Linked DNA regions of Homo sapiens: region 2 is linked to region 1. The links come from fine-mapping of genetic effects on gene expression. A gene starts in region 1. The other region holds a variant in brackets. All regions are shown on one strand. Distances are between the middles of the regions. Region 1 holds the start of LRRK2 (leucine rich repeat kinase 2). Region 2 overlaps LRRK2 (leucine rich repeat kinase 2).

The links. PIP is the estimated chance that this variant, and not a neighbour inherited with it, causes the effect.
Region 2: its variant is fine-mapped to the expression of LRRK2 in whole blood (INTERVAL, PIP above 0.99).

The regions. Positions count from the first base shown.
Region 1 is chr12:40,223,392-40,226,313 of GRCh38, forward strand. LRRK2 (leucine rich repeat kinase 2) reads left to right here and starts at 1,606. Exons shown (of 51, transcript NM_198578.4): 1 at 1,606-1,891; 2 at 2,164-2,249. The coding sequence starts at 1,741. It overlaps LRRK2-DT (LRRK2 divergent transcript), which reads right to left and starts at 431. Exons shown (of 9, transcript NR_186757.1): 1 at 268-431. LINC01779 (long intergenic non-protein coding RNA 1779) reads right to left here and starts at 1,512. Exons shown (of 1, transcript NR_186584.1): 1 at 1-1,512. RefSeq lists a silencer at 1,372-1,731.
Region 2 is chr12:40,367,400-40,370,321 of GRCh38, forward strand. It overlaps LRRK2 (leucine rich repeat kinase 2), which reads left to right. Exons shown (of 51, transcript NM_198578.4): 51 at 245-1,886. The coding sequence ends at 366. The region is part of intron 5 of LOC105369736 (a long non-coding RNA gene); the gene reads right to left. Among named protein-coding and RNA genes, the nearest start is that of MUC19, 25 kb to the right of the region's middle. The variant C/CTTT (reference allele first, on the strand shown) is at 1,291.

The sequences.
Region 1 (2,922 bases):
AACAATTATCAATTCAAAAGTTGTTATCGTTATCTCTATCTCCACACATTTCATCTTTTCCTCCACCACTGGATGACTTTGAAAGAAATCCTAACCATTTCAACTATAAATATTTTAGCATGTCTCTGTAAAAGTTAAAGACTCTATAACAACAAGACATAGACCCAATATCCAGGTTGAGTAGGAGTTTGCTATCTTACTAATCTAATGTATTAACAAAGTCTAGAGCATTCTTATTAAAGTGGTAGAGCATGAAGAACCTTCTACCTGGAGTTAGGAGATTTGCTGGGTTGAAGTCCTGGCTCTCAACTTCCCACCTGTGTGACTCCAGCAAAGCTCTTCACTTCTCAATTCCAAATCTCAATTTCCTCACTAGTGAAAGAAGGATACATAGTAGTAGTTGTATCCATTTCAGAATTGTCATCAGGATTGAAGTAACAGATGTGAAAACAAAACTAAAATTGTGAAGTAGTAACTTCCAGTCCAATCCTCTTCTTTGTAAGTGATCTTGAGGACAGACACATCACCTGAAGGATAGATCATCTTTGCCTAGCCTTGTCTACAATGTTCTTGCTAGGTTTCTTTTCCTAAAAACACATTACTTAGGTACTTAACAGAACAAACAAACAAACAATCAAAAGACAAAACCAAAAAACTTTGGGGTTATAGACACCCATACTCATAAGTATTTCTGAATACCAAGAGAAGAGTATTTAGGTTTGCTTCTCTCAACTTTTCACCTTTCATTTCATGTACCCTGTCCTTTGTCTCAGCTCTAATAGCTCTGAGAGCTGATTACTTTTCGGGTGTCCCAAGTATCAGGATCCTGCCTAGTGCAACTCAAATTTCCAAAAGTTAATTTAGTGGCCTTTTGGTGACCAGAGCTTCAGATAACTCACAGGGAAACAATGTTTATTTCCTCTCCCACTAACAGTCACAAAAAATCATAAAAAAGAGTAGCGGGGGCAGTTTTGATGGCTAACCCCTCTTTCCATCCTTTGGGGGAAAATTGCTCATCTCCCTATAGGTGGAACTCTAAAGACAATGTATTCCTAAAAGGGGCCATCTGGGCGGTGTCCTCTTTTCCCAGCGCCCTGATTTCTATTCTTAGATCTGGAGATAGGCGGCTTTCATTTTTCCTGCTCCCAGTTCCCAGACCTTCCGTGGGGCCGCAGGATCCCCGGCTGGCGGGTCGCGGAGGGTGGCCGGCCGGGCTGCGCACTGCGCGCCTCCGCTGCGGGGCTCCGGGCCTGTGGACTCAGCGGAGTCCGCTGAGTCAGTTTCTTCCCGCGCGACTCCCGGCCGCGCCGCCGCTGCGGTGGAATCTGGTCCCAGGAGGCGGCGTCCGCCCGGGGTCCGGTCTAGGCGTGCGTGGGGGCCACGGTCACGGTCATCCCAGCCAGGCCCGGCTCCAGCAGCCCCACGGCCGCCGCCAGAGTTCTGCGCGGCCCGTCGCCTCGGCGGAGCCTCTGGCAGGCCCCTGAGCTCGTTTTTGGGGCCTGAGTGGGGGAGGAGGAAGCCGAGCAGGAGGGCTCCGGAGAGGGAGGGCAACGCGGGGCGGGGAGCTGCCTCCTTCCTCATAAACAGGCGGGCGTGGGCGCCGATGGGGCCCGCGGGGAGCGCTGGCTGCGGGCGGTGAGCTGAGCTCGCCCCCGGGGAGCTGTGGCCGGCGCCCCTGCCGGTTCCCTGAGCAGCGGACGTTCATGCTGGGAGGGCGGCGGGTTGGAAGCAGGTGCCACCATGGCTAGTGGCAGCTGTCAGGGGTGCGAAGAGGACGAGGAAACTCTGAAGAAGTTGATAGTCAGGCTGAACAATGTCCAGGAAGGAAAACAGATAGAAACGCTGGTCCAAATCCTGGAGGATCTGCTGGTGTTCACGTACTCCGAGCGCGGTAATCACTTGAAAATAAACTGTGCTTTTATTTTTGCAAACTTTCTCCCCCTCCTTACATTTGCAAATTTTGTCCTCCTCCCCTTGACCCTGCTCAAACCCGGACTCTTAAGGAGCCGCAAACTCCCATATCCTTTCCTTAGGGCAGAAAGCAGCTGAGAATTTCAGGAAGGTCTTCACCTTTTTGACTTTTCTCCCCGTTTCAGACTAAAAAGGAGAGGGGGTGCTGTGGATTGTGACTTTGCTTCTTTTCCCCACCCACTTGTTTTCCAGCCTCCAAGTTATTTCAAGGCAAAAATATCCATGTGCCTCTGTTGATCGTCTTGGACTCCTATATGAGAGTCGCGAGTGTGCAGCAGGTAAAGGCATTGTTTTCACTTCAACTCATTCTCCCTTCTGTTTGGAAGGAGACGTTTTACTGGCAATGTTAATATAGCCGAGAGTTCTTGGTTATTCCCAAAATTTGGCTTGAGGAACCTCTGACTGTGATTTTAAGATGGGAATATTGTTAAATCATTACGCAATGTAAACGGGATGAAGAGCCCCAGTATGTGTTCCCTGAGTGTCTTTAAGAAGTAACTTTATAAAACCAACAGTATGGATGGTGGTAGAAGGAGGATAAAAATGGGTTCGGTTTTAGTCTCGTTATTGGCAAGATGAATTCATTAGTGTTTAGACTTGACTATTCCAAGTATCTTCCCAATACAGAGCATGTCCTAGATGAGAAGATTATGAATAGTTTGGAAAAGGGGAATAATTAATAGTGATAAAATGCAACTTTGTCACTAGCAAACTCTTGTAGAGTTCAGCACTTTTTAAAATTCAAAGATTTCTAGCCTTTAGTTGTAGTATACCTTGTAGTATCTAAAGAAAGTGATGTCTTATGAGACCCTCATAGTTTGCAACTGTTGTCATATAAAATGCATGTAGAAGTGAAACTTTTACAATCTGTACCATAGGAAACCCAGAAATTTGCTATGTATCTTGGATTTTTTTTTAAAGGGGGCCTTAAAAATGGTAATTAAGAATGAT
Region 2 (2,922 bases), 140 kb after region 1:
AGAATATGAAATGTTAATTTATTAAATGTTGATACTCTATTTGAAATTTAATAGTTTCTATAATGTATTATAAAACTTTTCCAAGTATAGTTTTTTATAAATAATAATTTAGTACATTAGTTATAGCTGTGTTTATATTTACATTTATCTAAGTCAACTAAAAATACATGAGCCAAACTGAAATAAAATAAGAATGTTTTATGATGGATCTTTGAAACATGATTTCATTTTTTTCTTTTTCTAGAGATACAATCTTGCTTGACCGTTTGGGACATCAATCTTCCACATGAAGTGCAAAATTTAGAAAAACACATTGAAGTGAGAAAAGAATTAGCTGAAAAAATGAGACGAACATCTGTTGAGTAAGAGAGAAATAGGAATTGTCTTTGGATAGGAAAATTATTCTCTCCTCTTGTAAATATTTATTTTAAAAATGTTCACATGGAAAGGGTACTCACATTTTTTGAAATAGCTCGTGTGTATGAAGGAATGTTATTATTTTTAATTTAAATATATGTAAAAATACTTACCAGTAAATGTGTATTTTAAAGAACTATTTAAAACACAATGTTATATTTCTTATAAATACCAGTTACTTTCGTTCATTAATTAATGAAAATAAATCTGTGAAGTACCTAATTTAAGTACTCATACTAAAATTTATAAGGCCGATAATTTTTTGTTTTCTTGTCTGTAATGGAGGTAAACTTTATTTTAAATTCTGTGCTTAAGACAGGACTATTGCTTGTCGATTTTTCTAGAAATCTGCACGGTATAATGAAAATATTAAGACAGTTTCCCATGTAATGTATTCCTTCTTAGATTGCATCGAAATGCACTATCATATATGCTTGTAAATATTCAAATGAATTTGCACTAATAAAGTCCTTTGTTGGTATGTGAATTCTCTTTGTTGCTGTTGCAAACAGTGCATCTTACACAACTTCACTCAATTCAAAAGAAAACTCCATTAAAAGTACTAATGAAAAAACATGACATACTGTCAAAGTCCTCATATCTAGGAAAGACACAGAAACTCTCTTTGTCACAGAAACTCTCTGTGTCTTTCCTAGACATAATAGAGTTGTTTTTCAACTCTATGTTTGAATGTGGATACCCTGAATTTTGTATAATTAGTGTAAATACAGTGTTCAGTCCTTCAAGTGATATTTTTATTTTTTTATTCATACCACTAGCTACTTGTTTTCTAATCTGCTTCATTCTAATGCTTATATTCATCTTTTCCCTAAATTTGTGATGCTGCAGATCCTACATCATTCAGATAGAAAC[C/CTTT]TTTTTTTTTTTCAGAATTATAGAATTCCACAGCTCCTACCAAGACCATGAGGATAAATATCTAACACTTTTCAGTTGCTGAAGGAGAAAGGAGCTTTAGTTATGATGGATAAAAATATCTGCCACCCTAGGCTTCCAAATTATACTTAAATTGTTTACATAGCTTACCACAATAGGAGTATCAGGGCCAAATACCTATGTAATAATTTGAGGTCATTTCTGCTTTAGGAAAAGTACTTTCGGTAAATTCTTTGGCCCTGACCAGTATTCATTATTTCAGATAATTCCCTGTGATAGGACAACTAGTACATTTAATATTCTCAGAACTTATGGCATTTTACTATGTGAAAACTTTAAATTTATTTATATTAAGGGTAATCAAATTCTTAAAGATGAAAGATTTTCTGTATTTTAAAGGAAGCTATGCTTTAACTTGTTATGTAATTAACAAAAAAATCATATATAATAGAGCTCTTTGTTCCAGTGTTATCTCTTTCATTGTTACTTTGTATTTGCAATTTTTTTTACCAAAGACAAATTAAAAAAATGAATACCATATTTAAATGGAATAATAAAGGTTTTTTAAAAACTTTAAATGCTTTTAAGCATGTTTATGAATTTTTAAACTTTGTGATAGTGTTTTGCTTTTCACATATAGGTCTGTTATCCATCTCATAGGAAACTTTGTATTAATTTGTATATGGGACATTCCACAATAAGAAAGTGCAACTAAAGTTTTTTCCTTGATAACTTATGGAATATTTAAATTTAATTTTCTATAATACATATAGTTGCCAGGATCCCAGGACAAAATCTGATGGGCATGATACATTCTATTTTCAAGTTCTCTTAAAAAGTTTTTGTAAGTAAACTTGTTTGCTCTTGAGTACTGAAACAAAATATAAGACTTTAGAGCAAATGACATATACAAAAAAAAGGCACAGTCACTTCAACTGTTTTCTGATTAGAAGCCTAAAATAACTTGCTAATTATGATCAAAATACAAGCATATTATCGTAACAAAATATTCTTTTGGGAAAATTTTGAATTAAGAAAAGGGAGCCTCTTTGACTCTAATTCTGGTAGGTACTCTATCGATTATGTGTGAACTATTTCAACTAAAACGCAACTTATTTTTCATCAAGGCAGTGAAATATATTGATGAAACATAGCAGAATTACCAAAAAAAGATTGTCAATTTTCCTAAGTTAAATGTAAGGATGCAAATGTTCTAATATTGAGGGGAGATAAAATTCAAAACCATTGGGACTTTGCTTCTTTATCCATCACTTTGGGTAGCTGAACACCTAACCTGGTAAATTGAATGTTTTTCATGGAGGCTTATCAGCAATTCAGTAAAATAGTAAACTATGTCAACTCGGGAGAAACTGACATCCTCATTCTCCATGCTAGCCAGTTTCTCATCCAGGGTGTCATTGTTTCTAATAACAATTCAGAATCTGGCTGCTTAAAGGCACCTACGTACGTGGTTCTTTCTAATTTGTCAAGGCATTTGGAGTGATCCTATCACCCTGATTTCAAGCAAAAGACAGGGAGGCACCTGACCCAAAGGCCTGCTGTCTGAACACACTCTGAATGGGTGAGCAGAGATGTGCTTTAAGATAGAACCTA